Linked DNA regions of Homo sapiens. The protein of the gene in region 1 interacts with the protein of each later gene in a pairwise test. Each region holds a gene or a part of one and is shown in the gene's direction. Other genes may lie near its edges.

Region 1 (3,078 bases):
CTTGCACCGGTTTTCAAAGGGAATGCTTCCAGTTTTTGCCCACTCAGTATGATATTGGCTGTGGGTTTGTCATAAATAGCTCCTATTATTTTGAGATACATTCCATCAATACCTAGTTTATTGAGAGTTTTTAGCATGAAGGGCTGTTGAGTTTTGTCGAAGGCCTTTTCTGCATGTATTGAGATAATCATGTGGTTTTTGTCGTTGGTTCTGTTTATGTGATGGATTACGTCTATTGATTTGCATATGTTGAACCAGCCTTGCATCCCAGGGATGAAGCCCACTTGATCGTGGTGGATAAGCTTTTAGATGTGCTGCTGGATTCGGCTTGCCAGTATTTTATTGAGGATTTTTGCATCAATGTTCATCAGGATATTGGCCTAAAATTCTCTTTTTTTGTTGTGTCTCTGCCAGGCTTTGGTATCAGGATGATGCTGGCCTCATAAAATGAGTTAGGGAGGATTACCTCTTTTTCTGTTCCTTGGAATAGTTTCAGAAGGAATGGTACCAGCTCCTCTTTGTACTTCTCATAGAATTCGGCTGTGAGTCCTTCTGGTCCTGGACTTTTTTTGGTTGGTAGGCTATTAATTATTGCCCCAATTTCAAAGTCTGTTACTGGTCTATTCAGAGATTCGACTTCTTCCTGGTTTAGTCTTGGGAGGGTGTATGTGTCCAGGAATTTATCCATTTCTTCTACATTTTCTAGTTTATTTGCATAGAGGTATTTATAGTATTCTCTGATGGTAGTTTGTATTTCTGTGGGATCAGTGGTGATATCCCCTTTATCATTTTTTATTGCATCTGTTTGATTCTTCTCTCTTTTCTTCTTTGTTAGTCTTGCTAAGAGTCTATCTATTTTGTTGACCTTTTCAAAAAACCAGCTCCTGGATTCACTGATTTTTTTGAAGGGTTTTTTGTGTCTCTATCTCCATCAGTTCTGCTCTGATCTTAGTTATTTCTTGCCTTCTTCTAGCTTTTGAATTTATTTCCTCTTACTCCTCTAGTTCTTTAAACTGTGATGTTAGGATGTCGATTTTAGATCTTTCCTGCTTTTTCTTGTGGGCATTTAGTGCTATAAATTTCCCTCTACACATTGCTTTAAACGTGTCCCAAAGATTCTGGTATGTCGTGTCTTTGTTCTCATTGGTTTCAAAGAACATCTTTATTTCTGCCTTCATTTCATTATTTACCCAGTAGTCATTCAGGAGCAGGTTGTTCAGTTTCCATGTAGTTGTGTGGTTTTGAGTAAGTTTCTTAATCCTGAGTTCTAATTTGATTGCACTGTGATCTGAGAGACAGTTTGTTGTGATTTCTGTTCTTTTGCATTTGCTGAGGAGTGTTTTACTTCCAATTATGTGGTCAATTTTAGAATCAGTGCGATGTGTTGCTGAGAAGAATGTACATTCTGTTGATTTGGGGTGGAGAGTTCTGTAGATGTCTATTAGGTCTGCTTGGTCCAAAGCTGAGTTCAAGTCCTGGATATCCTTGTTACTTTTCTGTCTTGTTGATCTGTCTAATATTGACAGTGGGGTGTTAAAGTCTCCCATTATTATTGTGTGGGAGTCTAAGTCTCTTTGTAGGTCTCTAAGAGCTTGCTTTATGAATCTGGGGGCTCCTGTATTGGGTGCATATATATTTAGGATAGTTAGCTCTTCTTGTTGAATTGATCCCTTTACCATTAAGTAATGGCCTTCTTTGTCTCTTTTGATCCTTGTTGGTTATCAGAGACTAGGATTGCAACCCCTGCTGTTTTTTGCTTTCCATTTGCTTGTTAGATCTTCCTCCAAATGTTTATTTTGAGCCTATTTGTGTCTTTGCATGTGAGATGGGTCTCCTGAATACAGCACACCGATGGGTCTTGACTGTCCAATTTGCCAGTCTGTATCTTTTAATTGGGGCATTTAGCCCATTTATATTTAAGGTTAATATTGTTATGTGTGAATTTGATCCTGTCATTATGATGCTAGCTGGTTATTTTGCCCATTAGTTGATGCAGTTTCCTCATAGCATCAATGATCTTTACAATTTGGCATATTTTTGCAGTGGCAGGTACCAATTATTCCTTTCCATGTTTAGTGCTTCCTTCAGGAGTTCTTGTAAGGCAGGCCTGGTGATGACAAGGCTCCCAGCATTTGCTTGTCTGTAAAGGATTTTATTTCTCCTTCATTTATGAAGCTTAGTTTGGCTGGATATGAAATTCTGGGTTGAAAATTCTTTTCTTTAAGAATGTTGATTATTGGCCCCCACTGTCTCCTGGCTTGTAGGGTTTCTGCTGAGAGATCCACTGTTATTTTGATGGGCTTCCCTTTGTGGGTAATCCGACCTTTCTCTCTGGCTGCCTTTAACATTTTTTCCTCCATTTCAACCTTGGTGAATCTGACGATTATGTGCCTTGGGGTTGCTCTTCTGGAGGAATATCCTTGTGGTGTTCTCTGTATTTCCTGAATTTGAATCAACAAATATTTTTATCATCAGAGTCCAGAAGAAGAAGAGAAGGGAAAGAGGATAGGAAATTTATTTAATGAAATACTAGCTGAAAAACTTCCCAAATCTGTTGAGAGATATAGACATCCAGATCCAGGAAGTTCAAAGGTCTCCAAATGTATTCAACCCAAAAGATCCTTCCCAATTTGTCAAAAGTTAAAGACAAAGAATTATAATAACAGCAAAAGAAAAGCATCAAGTCACATACAAGGAAGTCCACATTAGACTAGCAGTAGATTTATCTGCAGAAACCTTAAGGCCAGAAGGGAAGGGAATGATGTATGTAAAGTGCTGAAAGAAAAAAAAAATGCCAACCAGAAATACTATATGCAGCAAAGCTATCCTTCAGGAATGAGGGAGAAATAAAGCCTTTCCCAGACAGACAAAAGCTGAACTCCAGCTTCTTAGCCTTCTTTTCTCTTTTCACCAGAGCAACCCAACCCCTAGACTTCCTGTATTAAGAATATAAGGTGGCCAGGCATGGTGGCTCATGCCTATGATTCCAGCACTCTGGGAGGCCCAGGTGGCAGGATCGCTTGAGCCCAGGAGTTCAAGACCAGCCTGAGCAACATAGCAAGATGCCATCTCTAAAAA
Region 2 (4,106 bases), on another chromosome or scaffold:
GGGTAGAGAGGAAGGAGCCCCTAAATATCAGCAGGGGTGTAAATCACTAGGGGTATATGACATACATGTGCATAGAAAAAGGACAAGGAATAACCCCTAAATATCAGTAGGGGAGATTGTATTTTCTAGGAGGGCCACAAGATCCCCTGTCCCCTGTGCTCTTCATACAGTATGACCATGATGGAGAGGTGTGATCTAAGTTCCCTCTCCATGCATTTGTGACTATGGAGGCAATACAACTTCTGCCTGGTCCTCCTGGGATGCTCACGTTGGAAACTCAGACACTGGTGTGAGAAAGCACATGGAAACGCCACACATGGGTGAACTGGCGCTAACCCTGCTGACCTCAACTGACAACCAGCATCAATCACCAGACACATGAGTGAGGAAGCTCCTCTGTGACCTCTGACTGAGACCCTGTGAGAGACCCCAAGCATGAACAGCCTAGCTTAGCCTAGCCAACGACCAGGATCAGAAATTAAAAATGAATGTTGTTGTTTAAAACAACAGAGTTTGAGGGTGATTTGTTATATAGCAATAGCTATCCAGGAAAAAAGTATTTAACTTCTGTATGGTGAGATCATGGATATTAATAATACTTTTCCATATTTTCCAATATTTCTATAATGACCATTTATTTCTCTTATAATCAGTAACAAAAGAAGGGAAAACTTGGTCTAAACACGAATTTAGGGACTTAAACTAGACTTGGAGAAAAGCTTTCTATGCAAGATTTATTAGATACTGGAAAGGATGAGGAAGACAAATTTAAGTCAATATGATGGAAAGAGTGGTGGATTTGGAATGAGGAAACTTAGAAATGAATCTGTTTTCTGGGTGACCTTGCGCAAGCCTTTGCTAAAATTTGGTTTTCTATTTTGAAAAACGCAGCTGGCTGTTTAAGGAAGATAATATCCACCAGGGCGCCTGGCCCAGAAAAGGCGCTCTGTAAGTGGTAGGTGGATCCTGTCTAATCAACGCCAATTATAACCAGGCATCTGCAAGCTTTGTGGAGGGCGCATCTTTCACTGCTACCAGAGCCTACAGTTCTAATAATGAAAATTGCCTGGAAAAGAACCACAACTCTTAAAAAAAAAAAAAAAGTCCAAAATCACAAAGTGGCTTTTGCAGCGGTCCTTGCCTGTGACGCCGGGCCATGGCTGGAGCTCCTTGCTCCGTACCTCTCAGGAGCCTCCATCCTGTACCAATGGCCAGAGAGCCGGGGGGTGACAGACAGGGGGGCCGGCAGCCGAGCCAGGCAGGACGCTGCGCGCCGCGTTACTGGAGCCGGTGTCCCGGCAACCCCGGAACGCGCCTCTGTGGGAGAAGCAGGCGGCTGCGGTGTCCCTTTTGCCCTAGGCTCTCGGTTCTCAGGCCTCGGCGTGCGGCGTGCGTTCGGCAGTTCAGTTGCCAGTTGGTTCGTTGGTCCGTGGAGGCCTCTGAGCACAGACCCGGGCCTCCCCTGGGGAAGGGGGTGGGAAGACCCCGAGGTGGAAAAGAAGGAGCACCTTGAGCTGGATGGGGGCTGCAGCGAGCCTGGTTCGGGCTGGGGGCGGACTCGCTGGGGCTCCCAGGGCTTCCAAACCACGAAACGCCCAGGTGGAGGGAGTAAGGCTCCCGTTTAGAGGCCAGTCCTGCCCTCCTGACTTTCGGTGGCTTGTGGAATTTGTTTGTTTTGACTGATACCTTTCTTACGAGGGACTTTCTTTGTCTCTGGGTTGCTTCTAATATTTAAAATCATCATGGGCACAGATGAGTCCATCCATGCTCACTGGAAACAGTCCACGGGGCTGCCGTCTCCCCTCCATCTCAAGCACGACCTGCGGCAGACAGCTGGAGAAGGTTCCAGAAAAAAGGGACTCTGGCATGACCGAGGTGGAGAGGACCTACAGTTGAGTTCTAAGAAATCCAGGCTGTGGAGTTGGTGGCCACATCCAAGTATACTACACCCGGGGGCGGGGGCAGGTGGGGGGCACCATTTGAAGTTTAGAAGGAAGCTAGTTTGGGGGCATGTAAAAAGAGCTGCTTGAATAGTAGCTTATGTTTGTGCTAACCCAAGATTTGATTAGGCAGAGAGCACCACCAAAGCAGAGAGTCTCATAAATTACCTCACTGGATCTCACAGCAGTGGAGAAGTATATTACCTATGAGTAAAGGGAGCCAGAGATTTGACCTGCCCAGTGCTTGGGTTAATAAAAGGTGAGCCTGGGATTTGACATGAGCCTGGGATTTGACATGAGTCTGCCATACTTTCGAGCCTGTGTCCTTTCATCTTTCCTTTGCTCAGATATTAGTAGGTTTGTGTCATTGTTTATTGGATGGGACAGTTCAGGTGAGAATTATGAACACTCTAAAAATTAAATAATGGCTGGTAGCTCCATAATTGGTTAAGGCCGAGGAGGGTATTTGGGGGCACGTTTGCCTTTGGAGAACAGTGTCATGGCGCTGAACAGCCACAGTCTCCCAGAAAAGCTCAGAGTGCGCCTGCGCTCAAGTTCTCATTTACCTGTTATGGGTGAGTGGCCTGAGTGCTGCAAAAAGGGGTTGTGAAATATCCAGACTTTGCGGGATCAGATCTTAGCTTTCTCCCTGGTCTTCTGTATTCTGGGTGTGTGATCTCCTCATTCTCCTTCACAGTGGGGAGAAAGGAGGGAGGTACAACTCATTCCACCCAGCTATTAATATAAGCTAGGACCGTAGAGAAGGAGGAGCTGGAGGAGTTAGAGCTATTAATTGTCCAAGTGTGTCTGCAACAGCAAGGAGAAAAGGGTTCTGGGATTCTAACTTTAAGCTCCAGACCTTCCTGCAGTTTCCAGTTTGGGGTAAAGGAAGAAGCTGCTGTTTTAAGGATGTCCTAGGGAGGATCCATGTTTTCGAGTTAGGGGTAGCAGAAGGGTACCAGGTCCCAGACCACATTAATGAAAGACCCATGGTGTCCTTTCCTGCTGTGTAGGTGAGTCTATTCAGGAGAATACATCTGAGTTTAGCTTAACATGGAGTCTATGGATTTCAGCAAGGAAGGGGCTCCACAAACCAATTGAAGATACGTGTGTGTGTGTGTGTGTGTGTGTGTGTGTGTGCATTTTTCCATCAGAGAACCGATTGCTTTCATTACTGCTCATGGGGGAGAGGATAGAATCAAAAAACGGGTTAAAAACTTCTGTCCTTGATCCTTAGGCCCCTTGTGAAGCAGATAAGCAGGGGTGGGAAATAGTGTTTGGTTAAATGAGTATCCATGTTAAACAAACATGGCTTGATGTATTATTTTTCTCCCTGCCAGACAGAGCTATTATGACAATCAGCTGAGATGACAAACATATGAAAGTGCTTTGGTTATGTAAGGTGTTATTCCTGCCTAAAAAAATGGAAATAATTATCCTGAATTCCACAGATGGCAATAAAGAAACAGACTTTCTTCCAAATTCTCTTTTTTCCCTTGAATTCCTTTCTGGTTACCAGAACCTTCTCTTGGCCTTTAATTACATCATTTCTTCTTAATTTTGCAGTGTTTTAGAAACTTGTTAGAATTTTCTGACTTCTGGCTTACTTGACATTTATTGCGCTTGAATAACAATTTTCATGATAAATGGTGAAACTTTCAAGCAGGGTGTATCTCCTTAGTGTGTTTGTCTCCCCACAGCCTTCTGAGCTAGATGGGGGAGAGGGCAGCCACTGGGAGCTGGGCGTGGAGAAGTAATTGACTTGCTCAGAGTAGCTGGATGGTACTCTATGCAGTGGGAGCATCAGTATTAGTATTAGCGTCAGTATTAGTAAGTGTTCAGGCTTGCAATTCCAGCTTCTCTTCCAGCTAATCTTCTTTTACCAGGGGAGGGGCGGGGAGGCATCTTGAGAACATGTTTAAGTGTCTCCAGCTCAAGTTTGAGGTTGAGTTACTCTCAGGAAGATGCCGTAGTCAGCTTGATCTAGAGAGTGTGCTGTTTGCCAGTTTAGCAAGAGATTGCTCTTCCCATCCTTGTCCATCAGACAAGCTTTCCCCATTATAGTGGCCACAGGCCACTTTCTAGAGTGCTGCTGCCACAAAACTTTTCAAGCAAGCAAGGAAGTGTGCTAAAGTTTTAGGTGTGTTTCACTGCTCGCTGCTTAGG

Evidence for each region. Proteins that work in one complex are often made in the same cells at the same time.
Region 2: the proteins of GPHN (region 1) and SPATS1 interact in a two-hybrid assay, tested with the Homo sapiens proteins (one large-scale study listed by BioGRID and IntAct).

What each region holds. Positions count from the first base shown.
Region 1 is NC_000014.9:67,176,147-67,179,224, forward strand, and holds part of GPHN (gephyrin), read left to right. Parts: intron 1-3,078. UniProt on the Homo sapiens protein: Microtubule-associated protein involved in membrane protein-cytoskeleton interactions. It is thought to anchor the inhibitory glycine receptor (GLYR) to subsynaptic microtubules.
Region 2 is NC_000006.12:44,341,344-44,345,449, forward strand, and holds the start of SPATS1 (spermatogenesis-associated serine-rich protein 1), read left to right. Parts: upstream 1-1,306; 5' UTR 1,307-1,425; intron 1,426-1,752; coding exon 1,753-1,891; intron 1,892-4,106.